Linked DNA regions of Homo sapiens. The protein of the gene in region 2 purifies or fractionates together with the protein of the main gene of each other region. This does not show direct contact. Each region holds a gene or a part of one and is shown on either strand. Other genes may lie near its edges.

The links. Proteins that work in one complex are often made in the same cells at the same time.
Region 1: the proteins of NDC1 (region 2) and OSBPL8 purify together in Homo sapiens (co-immunoprecipitation; one large-scale study listed by IntAct). This does not show direct contact.
Region 3: the proteins of NDC1 (region 2) and HAVCR2 purify together in Homo sapiens (co-immunoprecipitation; one large-scale study listed by IntAct). This does not show direct contact.
Region 4: the proteins of NDC1 (region 2) and ARMC6 purify together in Homo sapiens (co-immunoprecipitation; one large-scale study listed by IntAct). This does not show direct contact.

The regions. Positions count from the first base shown.
Region 1 is NC_000012.12:76,549,772-76,553,271, reverse strand, and holds part of OSBPL8 (oxysterol-binding protein-related protein 8), read left to right. Parts: intron 1-3,500. UniProt on the Homo sapiens protein: Lipid transporter involved in lipid countertransport between the endoplasmic reticulum and the plasma membrane: specifically exchanges phosphatidylserine with phosphatidylinositol 4-phosphate (PI4P), delivering phosphatidylserine to the plasma membrane in exchange for PI4P, which is degraded by the SAC1/SACM1L phosphatase in the endoplasmic reticulum.
Region 2 is NC_000001.11:53,828,297-53,831,796, forward strand, and holds part of NDC1 (nucleoporin NDC1), read right to left. Parts: intron 1-3,500. UniProt on the Homo sapiens protein: Component of the nuclear pore complex (NPC), which plays a key role in de novo assembly and insertion of NPC in the nuclear envelope.
Region 3 is NC_000005.10:157,088,689-157,092,044, forward strand, and holds part of HAVCR2 (hepatitis A virus cellular receptor 2 precursor), read right to left. Parts: intron 290-3,356; coding exon 253-289; intron 1-252. UniProt on the Homo sapiens protein: Cell surface receptor implicated in modulating innate and adaptive immune responses. Generally accepted to have an inhibiting function.
Region 4 is NC_000019.10:19,050,603-19,054,102, forward strand, and holds part of ARMC6 (armadillo repeat-containing protein 6), read left to right. Parts: intron 1-1,019; coding exon 1,020-1,593; intron 1,594-3,500.

The DNA.
Region 1 (3,500 bases), on a different chromosome or scaffold from region 2:
GCAGGAATAGTTTGTCAGATTACATAATTTTTTACAAGGAAGGCTGGGGCCCATGTGGAAATTATGGAATCTATGTTGGTATATTTTGATGGGATGGAAGTATGGTAGATCTGGAGAGAGAGAAGTTCAATCTAAGTAACATTATTACCGGGTAGAGTAATGAGGTGGGGTGCTTTGGATGTGAGGGCACAGGTACATTGTTCAAGTGGAGAGTAGGATGAGGGACTTCTGGAGACTAGCTTTGCTTAGTGTGTAATTTTGTGCATTGTTATGATTATAATAACTTGTAAGATCAGCAATTTGGAAGTAAAGAAAAGCAGTGCTGTGCATCATAGTGTGGAGTTTGTAATAGTTCTAGGCTGTTTTGCAAGATGTAGGTGCTTTACAAATATCCATTGGTAGTAATGGAAGTGCTCTGTCTTATCACCTATTTTAGAAATCTGGAGAGGCAGAATAGCACGAACCCTGGAGCCAGACTGCCAAAGTTCAGAACTGGTACAGCCACTTACTAGCCTATTGCACTGGCCCTATGCTGACTTGGGGTGGCCAAAAGGGAAGAAAATGGCATATTTAAGCAGAGAGGGGGCCAGAGATAGCACTCTGTGAGTTTTCCATGGTTCTTACATGGTCTGAAAGAGATCTGGATGTTCTCACATATGACTAGTGAAGGAAATAGAAGTTAGTAGAGTGAGAGCCAGGAAGCCTGTCATTAGGCTGCTATTGTGAGGGAGGGACCATGTAGTAGACAGAGGTTGTGGGAAGGGCAGATTCATTTCATTGCCCACAAAAATTTGTGCTCCCTCTTGCTTGCAACATTTTTTTTTTTTTTTTTTTTTTTTTTTTGGAGACATGGGGTATCGCTCTGTTGCTCAGGCCAGAGTGCAGTGGCAGGATCTTGGCTCACTGCAACCTTCGCCTCCTGGGCTCAAGTGATTCTTGTGCCTTAGCCTTCCGAGTAGCTGGTACTACAGGGATGTGCCACCGTGCCTGGCAAATTTTTTGTATTTTTGGTAGAGATGGGGTTTCACCATGTTGCCCAGGCTGGTCTCTAACTGCTGAGTTCAAGCGATCTGCCCGCCTCAGCCTCCCAAAGTGCTGGCATTACAGGTGTGAGCCACTGTGCCTGCCACTAGTTTTTCACTAGTGAATGTGAATAGAAATCAATTTGTTGTCACTTCTGGGTTGAAGTGGCAGAAAAAATAGGTATTCTTTCTTCACCTTCTCTTTTCTAATTCAAGGGCCAGATGCAGAGGTTTAGGCTCTTAAGGGATAGTAAAACCATAAGATTGGAATGTTCTACAGTCCCTAAATTTACCATGTGAAAGAAATTTGTGTACCAAATAGGAATACCCACAATGGATTGTAATATTAATGAGAAATTTTAATTGTGTGAAGCTACCGAAAATCTGGGGTTTATTTGTTAAGCAGCTAGTGTTGCCTTAAGTATAAGCCAGGGACTGGATAGACGAGGTAGTCGAGACTGTAATAATATCCGTACCAGCAGGAGCTGAGGTGGGTGGGGCCAAGTTAGGAGATCCTCTGGATACTGTTCCAACATATTCATCAGCATGTGCCATTGTGACTCTGTGAGGGCCAATATTCAAACCTTAGAGGCCTGTGAGGATCCCCAGGGCAATCCATGGGTCTGTATTCAGGCTAATCATAATACTCCAGATGCCCATGAAAGCTTTATCTTACGCCCAGTCACCATGATAAGAATGAGGAACAGAGAAAATCTATACAAGTCTGAAGAGTTTTCTTAAAGTAGGGTTTCTTAACTTGACTCTGTTGATATTTTGGGCTGGATAATTCTTTGTTGTGTGTTCCTGTGCATTGTAGAATGTATAGCACCATCCCTGGCCTCTACTCACTAGATGCTAGTACCATCTTTCTTAATTGTGACAATGAAAAATGTTTCAAGATATTGCCAGATGTTCCCTGGGGACAAGGTCACTCTCAGTAGAGAACTACTGCTTTAAAGATTGAGTGAATGAGTGAATCTGAAAGAAATGATTTTAAATGGAAAGAAACTATTATCCTTAATTAAAGAACTTTTTCCCCTTTTAGGGGTTGGGTAAGGTTCATGGGGAGCAGTTCATTTCTGTATATCCAATAAAGGAAGCTATGTTGTTTTTATAAAACATCCTAGTTTCTAGTGTGTGTGTGTGTGTTTTCCTCTCTTCCTTGATATACTATATATATGTTTGTATTATTTTTTGAGTGACAGAGTCTCCTCCTGTCTCCTGCACTCCAGGCTGGAGTGCAGAATTCCTGAGCTCAAAGGATCCTCCTGCCTCACCTTCCCCAGTAGCTAGGACTACAGGTTTGTGCCACTGTGGCTGGCTACTTTATTTTTTTTGTACAGACAGGGTTTCGCTATTTTGCATAGGCTGAATTTGAACTCCTGCCTCCCAAAATGTTGGGATTACAGGCATGAACCCTGGTACCCAGCCTTAATGTTGATTCACCTTTCTCTTTATCAGCTTTAGAAATTACTTGAATTTTCCATTTATTACCTTGTGATTATTTCTTCTAAACCAGTAGCTGTACTTTTTATTGGCTAGACTAAGCTTGTCCAATCCCTGGCTGGTGAGCTGCGCACGGCCCAGGACAGTTTTGAATGCGGCCCAACACAAATTCATAAACTTTCTTAAAACATAAGGAGATTTTTTTGTTTTTTAAAGCTCATCAGCTATTGTTAGTGTTAGTGTATTTTATGGGTGGCCCAAGACAATTCTTCTCTTCCAGTGTGGTCCAGGGAAGCCAAATGATTGGACACCCCTGGCCTAAACAAATACACGTTTTTTCCCCTGTAATCTCAGCTGTCATGTCCACAGGTTGTCTCTAAATTATGAAAACCAATAAATAGTGTTGATACCATGACTGTGTAAGTATTATTTAATGCTAAGCCAGATAATGTGCTTAGATGATTATTCCTTTTCTGTCCCTGGGCTGCCAGAAGAAACATGTTGATAATATAGAGAATTAGTAGACTTTATTTATTTTATCAATTCTGACCATCAAATTAAAAAAAAATTTGGATATGACCAAAATCTAACTTTGGAATTAAAAAAGTTTTTGAATAGGACTTCCTGTTTTTCTTAGTGTCTTAAATTGCCCTCTTTTCTTGTACTATATGCCTCTATTATAGCCTCCCCTACACCCCAGCCCCCCCACACCCCAACTCTTCAGCATACTGCCTTTTGTGCTGCATTCTCTATTTATCTGTATTTGTCTGTAACTCTGCCTCCATTTGGACTCTTCTAGGTCTTTTCTTGTAACTTCCTTTCTCCTTACTCTTGAATTGGATCCATTCTGTTATACATATTTTTTTTTCCTTTTTTTTTTTTGCATCTGCTTGATCTGTTTATTGGAGTACATCTTCAAATAACTCTTTGAAAAAGAAGTATGTATGAGAGGCAAACTTTCCGAATTCTGTGTAAAAAAGTCTCCATTCTATTCTCACAAATGATTGATAATTTGGCTGGGTACAATATTGT
Region 2 (3,500 bases):
AAATACAATACAGAAAAATTTAAAGTTAAAAATTCTAAGTTAAAAAAATTTGAGGAAAGCATGAATAAACAGACACAAAAAAACCCAAAGAATCTAGAGATGAAACCTAAGGACAGCATGATCAACATTTTTCATTAAAATTTCCTAATAGTTCCAATAGTGCCTATCCTAGTATTCTCCTAAGCACCATAAAAGAATAATGATTTTTTTTTTCATATATGGACTACTGTAATGGTCTTGCAGTGTGGGAGAGTGACTGGGTTCAGCTCCTGAATACTGACTTTTTATTTATTTATTTATTTATTTTATTTTATTTTATTTTATTTATTTTTGAGACGGAGTTTCGCTCTTGTTGCCCAGGCTGGAGTGCAGTGGCGCAATCTTGGCTCACTGCAACCTCTGCCTCCTGGATTCAAGCGATTCTCCTGCCTCAGCCTCCCAAGTAGCTGGGATTACCGGTGCCTGCCACCATGCCTGGCTAGTTTTTGTATTTTTAGTAGAGATGGGGTTTCACCATGTTGGTCAGGCTGGTCTCAAACTCCTGACCTCAGGTGATCCACCCACCTTGGCCTCCCAAAGTGTTGGGATTACAGGCACGAGCCACCATGCCTGGCCTACTTTTTAAAAAGAACTCCTGCCATCAGCATTTGAAACTGTCAATATATAATCCACTTACGAAAAATAAACCATAAAGTAGGTAAATACTGACAACATAAATGCTAAGATAAATGCTTATATAGGGATTTTTAATACCCTTCAGACAATCCAAAAACATTTTCTGCAAATGAGCTAGGGAGGCAACTATGGGTAGGACATGAGGGATGTTTACCTTTGGAAACAGCTAGCCTAGGGTTCCCTGATCTATCTATGTAGGTATTTTGCTCTTACTATACTCAAAGTAAAGAGATGGCAGGAGGTAGAAAATTAAGTATGAAGGGACAAGTTTCAGGTGCTTTATACTTTGAGGAAGAGGTTCCTATGACCTCTCCCTCCCAACCAGAAATGCCCACAAGGTCCTACTGACTGTGCAACTAACTTATAACACTCTAAATATACCAAACCCTCTCATGTCACTAAGCCTTTTTATATGCTATACCTTCTCTCTAGAACATCATTTTCCTTCTTTGTCTACTTAATTCAACTCATCCTGCAAGGCTTGGTTTAAGGATCATCTCCTCAAGTTCCCCCATGCTGGGGCAAGTGGTGCTCCTATACAAGCTCTTACCATCCAATGTACTGTAATCAAATATGCTTCATGTTTACTGTCTCTCCATTAATCACGATCTCTGGAGAAAGATGGGACCTATCATTTCTCTTTTCTCTCCACACAATGCATGGCATATAGTAAATGCATAAGGGATGGTTACTGAAGGAATGAGCCAAAGTGAATAGTCAGGCTTTAAGAAGGACTGGCTGGGGACCCCTCAACTGACATATTACATACAGAAGATGACCCAAGCATATGGGAGAGTATGAAAGAACACTCTGTTTAAGTGTGGCTGTAAGCCAAGGAGTTTCGAATAGGGCTTGCATGGAAAAAGCTTACTAGTCAATAGTGAGGAATTAAGAAAGCAGGCTGAGTGCAGTGGCTCATGCCTGTAATCCCAGCACTTTGGGAGGCCAAGGTGGGCAGATCATGAGTTCAGGAGTTTGAGACCAGCCTGGCCAATATGGTGAAACCCCACCTCTACTAAAAATACAAAAAATAGACGGGCGAGGTGGCAGGCAACTGTAATCCCAGCTACTCAGGAGGTTGAGGCAGGAGAATCACTTGAACCCGGGAGGCAGAGGCGTCAGCGAGCCAAGACCATACCACTGCACTCCAGCCTGGGCAACAGAGTGAGACTCCATCTCAAAAAAAAAGAAAGAAAGCGAGGCTGGGCCCAGTGGCTCACACCTGTAATCACAGCACTTTGGGAGGTCAAGGCAAGCGGATCACTTGAGGTCGGGAGTTCGAGACCAGCCTGACCAACATGGTGAAACCCCGTCTCTACTAAAAATACAAAAATTAGCCAGGCATGGTGGCATACGCCTGTAATCCCAGCTACTCAGGCGGCTGAGGCAGGAGAATTGCTTGCACCTGGGAGGTGGAGGTTGCAGTGAGCCGAGATCGTGCCACTGCACTCCAGCCTGGGCGACAAAGCTGGACTCCATCTTGGAGACCAAAAACAGAAAGCAAGCAAGGGAAAAGGATACGTATTGTAACATCCAAAGTCAGAATTTGAAATTTTACGCCAGATTTTACAAGGAAGTGTTGAAGAACTAAAAAGGCAAATGATGTAGGCTGGGCGCGGTGGCTCATGCTTGTAATCCCAACACTTTGGAAGGCCGAGGCAGGCCGATCACCTGAGGTCAGGAGTTTGAGACCTGCCTGACCAACATGGAGAAATCCCATCTCTACTAAAAATAGAAAAAATTAGCCAGGTGTGGTGGTGCCTGCCTGTAATCCCAGCTACTCAGGAGGCTGAGGTAGGAGAATCGCTTGAAACCGGGAGGCAGAGGTTGCGGTGAGCCGAGATCACGCCATTGCACTCCAGCCTGGGCAACAAGAGTGAAACTCCGTCTCAAAAAAAAAAAATTCCTCCCGGTCTGAGTATTCTATGATCCTACCGCATCTGTTTCTCTCAAAAAAAATAATAAATAGGCCAAGCATGGTGGCTCATGCCTGTAATTCCAGCACTTTGGAAGGCCAAGGCAGGCCGATCACGAGGTGAGGAGATTGAGACCATCCTGGCTAACATGGTGAAACCCCGTCTCTACTAAAAATACAAAAACAAAATTAGCCAGGCATGGTGGCGGGTGCCTGTAGTCCCAGCTACTTGGGAGGCTGAGGCGGGAGAACGGCGTGAACCTAGGAGGCAGAGCTTGCAGTGAGCCGAAATCGCGCCACTGCACTCCAGCCTGGGCGACAGAGCAAGACTCCGTCTCAAAAATGATAATAATAATAAAATAAATAAATAAACAGAATATTCATATAATCAATGAAATGTAAAATCTAAAACATGACATTATGATAAACTAATTTAAGGTTTAGACATGTTAGCACATATGGAACATGTACATTTAAAAAATTTTTTTTAAGTTTAAAAAAAGGAAAATGGGCTGGGTGCAGTGGCTCACGCCTGTAATCCCAGCACTTGGGAGGCCGAGGGCAGATCACAAGGTCAAGAGATCAAGACCATCCTGGCCAACATGGTGAAACCCCCTCTCTTCTAAAAATACAAAAATTAGCCGGGCGTGGTGGCGCGTGCCTGTAATCCCAGCTACTCCGGAGGCTGAGGCAGGAGAATCACTTGAACCCAGGAGGCAGAGATTGCAGTAAGCTGAGATCGCACCACTGCACTCTAGCCTGGCGACAGAGCGAGACTCTGTCTCAAAAAAAAAAAAGGAAAATGATGTTATAGTAAAAAAATAAGAGTCAGGAAAAGCTTCTTATTGTATCTTTTTTTCCTTATGTGAATCTGCCACAACTTGTATCTTAAAGGCAGTCTCAAGGAATC
Region 3 (3,356 bases), on a different chromosome or scaffold from region 2:
AATAAGCATGTTGTATTATTAGGGTGATAAATTCTATACCTTAACTTTAGAACTAAAGAAGCTAGAGGTGTCAGGAAGTACACACAGTAGCATGTTACATTTTCACTTCATAACTAGACCTAGAGAAAGAAGGAAGTATAAACTCAGATCTCAAAGCCCCAGGACAGGATTTCTCAGAGAAAAGATCAGACATGTTAGAGTAGGGACTTCCAAGATTCTCACCTTTTCCCAACCCCATTCCATTATTCTTACCTTAAATTCTGTATCTTCTCTTTGCTATGAGAATACCCTAGTAAGGGGGAAACAAAAGCCAATAAAAATGCATTCATAAAATAAATGAGACAAGAAATCAAATAGGTTCACTGGAAGCACGCATAGTTTAGGGAAATCTGGTCTCATCTCAGATTGAGTTAAATGAAACTCTCAACGTGTGCCTTAGATAGTTATATGGACTGTGTTAGAAAATAATAATAAAGATGCATTTTTCTTATTTAACAAATATTATGAGACCTCTACTATGTGTCTGGCAGTTTGCCTGGCACAAGGAACACAGGAACATAAAAGTGAATTGTGAGCCCTAATTTCACGAAGCTCACGCTCTCCTGTGGGAGACCAAAGAAATAAAAGAAAACAGTACCCCAGACCCAAGACCAGCCTGACCAACATGGAGAAACCCCGTCTCTACTAAAAATACAAAATTAGCTGGATGTGGTGGCCCATGCCTGTAATCCCAGCTACTCGGGAGGCTGAGGCAGGAGAATCACATGAACCCGGGAGACGGAGGTTGCGGTGAGCCAAGATTGCGCCATTGCACTCCAGCCTGGGCAACGAGAGCGAAACTCCGTCTCAAAAAAAAAAAAACAACAACAAAAAGGAAATAGTAAATAGGAAAACAAAATAATTTCAAATTATGATGTATTATAAAGGAAACCAACATCATAGTGAAACAGATAATAGAGAGGGTGGTCAGGGAAGGACCCTCAGAGATGAACTTTAAGCTCGTTTCTGAAATGAGTCAGCCAAGTAAAGAGCCAGAAGGAGCATTCCAGGATGAGGGAGCCCCTTGTAAAGATCTTGCTGAGTACCTGAAACTGAAAACGTGGCTGGATTAAGGGAGCGGCCCAAGATAAGGTCTGAAAGGTAGGCTGGGGCTAGGTCCAATAAGACCTTTCCAGCCATAATCAGGAGTCTGGATTTTATTCTAAGACCTGTAGGAAACCTTAGATTTCCTTGAAGGGCAGAGATGTGATCCTTATTTGTTTTGGGTTTCTTTTACCCGCTGAAAACAACTACGTTATCTCATCATTTCTGTGTTGTGGGTCAGGAATCCAGGTGTGGCTTACTGGGTACCTCTGGATCAAGGTCTTTCAAGGTGTCTTCTGGGGATGCAGTTTCAAAAATTTGAAACTTAAAATTTTCCTTTCTTTTCTTTTCTTTTTTTTTTTTTTTTTTTTTTTTTGAGACAGGGTCTTGCTCTGTTGGCCAGGCTGGAATGCAGTAGTAAGATCATATCTGATTGCAACTTTGAACTCCTGGGCTCAAGGGATCTACCCATCTCAGCTTCTGAGTAGCTAGAACTATAGGTGCACACTACCACAGCTGGATAATTTTTTTTAATGTTTTTGGGCTGGATGCAGTGGCTCACGCCTGTAATCCTAGCACTTTGGGAGGCAAGGCAGGTGGATTTCTTGAGCTTGGGAGTTCGAGACCAGCCTGGGCAACATGGTAAAACCTCATCTCTACTAAAAATACAAAAACTAGCCAGGTATGCTGGCACATGCCCGTGGTCCTAGCTACTTGGAGGCTGAGGCAGGAGAGTTGCTTGAACTCGGGAGGTAGAGGTTGCAGTGAGCCATGATCACACCACTGCACTCCAGCCTGGGTGAATCTCAATATGTTGCCCAGGCTAGTCTCAAACTCCTGGCCTCAAGTGACTCTCCTGTCTTGGCCTCCCGAAGTGTTAGGATTATAGGCATGAGCCATTGTGCTCAGACATTGATTTGGGTTTTAATATTGGATTCGAAGGAGGAATAAAGAAATGAGAAGATAAATTAAGTAGAAATAATGGTGTCTTGGAGTAAGGAATGGCCAAAAGAGATGCAGAATAATGAAAACACTTTAGATGTATGTTGGAGGAAGACTGCAGGAATCTTCTGTTGTTGTTTTTCTCTGAGACAGGGTCTCCCTGTGCTGTGTCACCCAGGCTAGAATGCAGCAGCAAGATCATAGTTCATAGCCTCAAACTCCTGGGCTCAAGTGATCTTCCTGCTTCATTCTCCTGAGTAGCTGGGACGATAGGCGTGCACCACCATACCCAGCCCTAAGGAATCTCAACATCTAAGGATCAGGCAGAAGAAGATCTGAAAAGCAATGGATCAAAGAGAAGAATGTCATTTCAGAAGCCAAGAGAAGGAGGACTTTCTAGAATGAGTGATCAATTTAAAAGGTTGACTATAATAAAGATAAAGGTATCAGGCTGGGAACGGTGGCTCACGCCTATAATCCCAGCACTTTGGGAGGCCAAGGCGGGCAGATCATCTGAGGTCAAGAGTTTGAGACCAGCCTGGCCAACATGGTGAAACCCCCGTCTCTACTAAAAATACAAAATTAGCCAGGCATGGCGGCACATGCATGAAATCCCAGCTACTCAGGAGGCTGAGGGGGGAGAATCACTTGAACCCGGGGAGGCAGAGGTTGCAGTGAGCCAAGATTGCACCATTGCACTCCAGCCTAAGCAACAAGAGTGAAACTCTGTCTCAAAAAAAAAAAAAAAGATAAAGGTATCTGTTAATATTTAATTTAGAAAACTGAAGGTCAGTGGTGAGCTTGACCATTTCCGTTGTGCTTTGGAGCAGAAACTAGATGATGGTGGGTCAAGGAGTGTAGATGGGTGAAAAGTAGAGACAACTCCTTTGAAAAATATGGCTGTGAGAACGAGTTGAGAAATGGGACTAGCTGGAGAGGAATGCATGGACTAGAACATATATTCTGCTAATGAAAATAGCATAAACAGAAAAGGAGAGAGATGACTCAGAAGAAAGGGATAAAAAGAAGGATGAAGTCTTGGCCTAGGCAATGGAGATTAAAAAGCCCTTTCATATTTCATCAGTTAGGAGAGGGGCAAAGAAGTTTTGAGCAGCAGTGAGGTATGGATGGTCATCTCAGAGAGTACACTAGAAAGATGGAAGATTGTGGGGCATTATTGAGTGTCAGTTTGTTTTTGTGAGGTCATGACTTAAAAAGCTGTCACCTTGATTTTAATATTTTCTCCAGCAACTTCCAGGGAAAAGATTGGAAATGAAACAGGCCTTTCTTATCTGTACTTCTCAGTAGCCATGTTTTTTTGGAGTGGCATA
Region 4 (3,500 bases), on a different chromosome or scaffold from region 2:
TGTAGTAATGTCTATTCTAGTCATGCACACTGGTGTTAACTTAATTTTTGTTGTTTTTTGTTTTTCAGTTCTAATCTCATTTTAGCAAAAACTTACCTTTTTAAATATCCTGTTGCATTGTAACATATACTTAGGTCCACAAATCTGAGCTCAGTGAGGATTATCCCATAGGCTTCTTTGTTTTTCGTGTCAGTCAATGCCAAATCAAAGCCCTTTGGGCTGGTGGTTTCTGTAGAACCACCCTGATTCAGTCTGAGGGCAAATAATCTCCTACACTTCAGGCTCACAGATTCATCTTTGGCTCATGCTAAGACATGTCCCGAGGTCATGTAGTTGAATGGCAGCTAAACTTATCTGAGTTGTTTAAAGTATTTTCTCCCCAGTGGCTTAGAGTTGAATTTGGATAAATCTGCTCTCTGTACAGTGTAACCACATTTGGCAGGTGCTCAATAAATGTTTGTGGAGTGAATGAGAGAGATGAAAGGAGACATCAGGATGGGTATGTCTGGTGAATGTGGCTTTCTCCTTCCTTGGAGAGCTGACCATTGACAGGTGTGCCAGTTTGTTACAGCTGTGTGACAAACAACCCAAACAACAGGCATCTTATTGTTTCTTGTGATTCTGCCTGGTTGGGCTCAACTGGATGGTTCTTCTGCTGGTATCGCTTGGGGCCTCTTGATGGCAGGTAGGGCTGGAATGTTTAATATGTCTGCATTTATGTGTGCAGCCCTTCGGCAGGGACACTGAGTTGTCTGGATCTCTCTCTCTCTCTCTGTGTGTGTGTGTGTGTGTGTGTGTGTGTGTGTGTGTGTGTCAGTCTTCCACGCTATGGCCTCTGAAGCTCAAAGCTCCTAGAATCACAGGTCTGGAAGTTGCCAGAGCTGTAACTTGCCCCACATCACTTCCACTGCAGGCCCAGATCCCAGGGGAGGGAACCTTGCAGGGGTCCAGACACTGTTGCTGTGGCCATGGGTTCCTCTTGCCTGAGCTGATGCTGAGGTTTCTCCCATGTCTCCCAGATGCTCAGTGACCTCCAGGAGTCTGTGGCCAGCTCTCGCCCCCAGGAGGTGTCAGCATACCTCACCCGCTTCTGCGACCAGTGCAAACAGGACAAGGCCTGCCGCTTCCTCGCGGCCCAGAAGGGGGCCTACCCCATCATCTTCACTGCCTGGAAGCTGGCCACTGCAGGTGACCAGGGCCTTCTGCTCCAGTCCCTCAATGCCCTGTCGGTGCTGACTGATGGACAGCCAGACCTCCTGGATGCCCAGGGCCTGCAGCTCCTAGTGGCCACGCTGACCCAGAATGCTGATGAGGCTGACCTGACCTGCTCTGGGATCCGCTGTGTGCGTCACGCTTGCCTGAAACATGAACAGAATCGGCAAGACCTGGTGAAAGCTGGCGTGCTGCCTCTGCTGACTGGTGCCATCACCCATCATGGCCACCACACTGACGTGGTCAGGGAAGCCTGCTGGGCCCTGCGTGTCATGACCTTCGATGACGACATCCGTGTGCCCTTTGGCCATGCCCACAACCATGCCAAGATGATTGTGCAGGAGAACAAAGGCTTGAAGGTGCTCATCGAAGCCACCAAAGGTAAGAGCTGGGGGCCGACACGAGCCAGCGAACAAAGTGGGCGGGTCAGATGTGACCAGAGTGAGGGTCAGGGCTCAGGACTGCTTTAGGCACGGCAGGCTCAAGGCTCCACTCGCCCCTCGGCTTAGACCTGCCTGCATGGCAGCCCTCGTGAAGAGTCTCCCCATGTTTTCTAGTGGCTCCAGGAGAATTCCAGGCCAGCACTCAGGGGCCAGGAGCAGGCCACAATCCCATCTCTGGAGCTGTCTGGGGAAGGGGCTTGCTGTGTCCAACTCCAGGGGCTGAGAGTGGGGAAGGGGGACCTCCCCAGAGGGAAATAAGAGGACTCGGGGGGGCTGGCTGGCATGCACCATGGCAGTCTCAGCTGGATGTGTACACGCTTGATCATATTCAGCCACAAATCCTTAGGCATATTCATGTGTCTGGCTCCAGGGTGACCATGGTGAGCCAGCCCTGGGAGGTCACAGTGCTGACCGTCAGACCCTAAAGCTTCTGTCTTAACCCCTACCCCCATCCCATCCACTGAACCCACCAGAAAAGTCCTGATTGACACACAGAAGGTGTTAGGAGGATGAGTTCCCCTTTCTTGCCTGCCCCGTCACTCTGGTTCTGTGGCCAGGCCTGTGTGGGGGTTCTGGCTCTGTCTGCTGAGGAGATGGGCCCACCTCAGTCTCCCTTCCACACCTCCAGCAAGGCTGAAAATGAGTCCCGACCTTCTGCAAAGTCAGGCTGCTTTTCCAGGAGGTAGCTCACATCTTTCCTGTTTTATTTATAGGAGCTCCAATCAGTTAGGTTTCTGCCAGAGACAGGATATGTATATATGAAGAGACTTTTTGGTAAGGAATGGGATCATGCAATTATGGCAAGTCTGTACTCCATAGGGCAGGCTGGAAACCCCCAGGCAGTCCCCTTTTCGGGGAAACACCTCAGTTTCCTTCTAAGGACTTCAGCTGATGGAATGAGTCCCATTCACATTGTTCAAGGTCATCTCCTCTACTTAAAGGCAACTGGGCTGGGCATGGTGGCTCATGCCTGTAATGTCAGCACTTTGGGAGGCTGAGGTAGAAGGATTGTTTGGGCCCAGGAGTTCAAGACCAGCCTGGGCAACATGATGAAACCCTGTTTCTACTAAAAATACAAAAATTGCTGGGCGTGGTGGTGGGCACCTGTAATCCCAGTTACTTGAGAGGCTGAGGCACAAGGATCTCTTGAGCCTAGGAAGGAGAAATTGTGGTGAGCCAAGATCACGCCACTGCACTCCAGCCTTGGTGACAAAGCGAGACTCTGTCTCAAAAAAATTAATAATAATAATAATAATAATAGATAGCTGATTGTGGATGGTAACCATGTGGACAGAATACCTCCACGGCAACACCTAGATTGGCATTGGGTGGAACTGCAGAGGGCTACAGGTGGTCACAGGAACTGACCGTCGCAGCCCTGTGTAGGTGCAGGATCTTCGCCCTCTTGGCGTGAGTGCCGGCACCTGCTTCCTGGTGCAGCGCCTCTGGGCTCCATCTGCGGCTCCTGTGTTCAGTTTTGGCCACGTCAGCCCAGTCCGTATGTGTCCCTCTATGGTTCTGGAGTTTCCTGTTGCACTTAGAGAAGCCATTCCTACCCCATGATCATAAAAATAGTCTTCAGATGTCTTTTTTTTTTTTTGCACTATTATAGTTTTCTTTTTTTAGGTGAGACCATGAGTTGGTATGGAATTTATTTGGGGCATGATGGAAGGAAGCGGGTTGGGGGGCACATTCTTAAGTCTTCCCAGCAGCCAGCAGGGGGCACTGCAGGCCCAGGTAGCCCCTGGTGTTCCCTGGGGCCTTCCTGGTGCCCGTGGCCACTCCAATAGGCAGAAGGGCTGGACTCTTCCAGTGGAGCAGGATCTCCACCAAAACAGAGGGCCC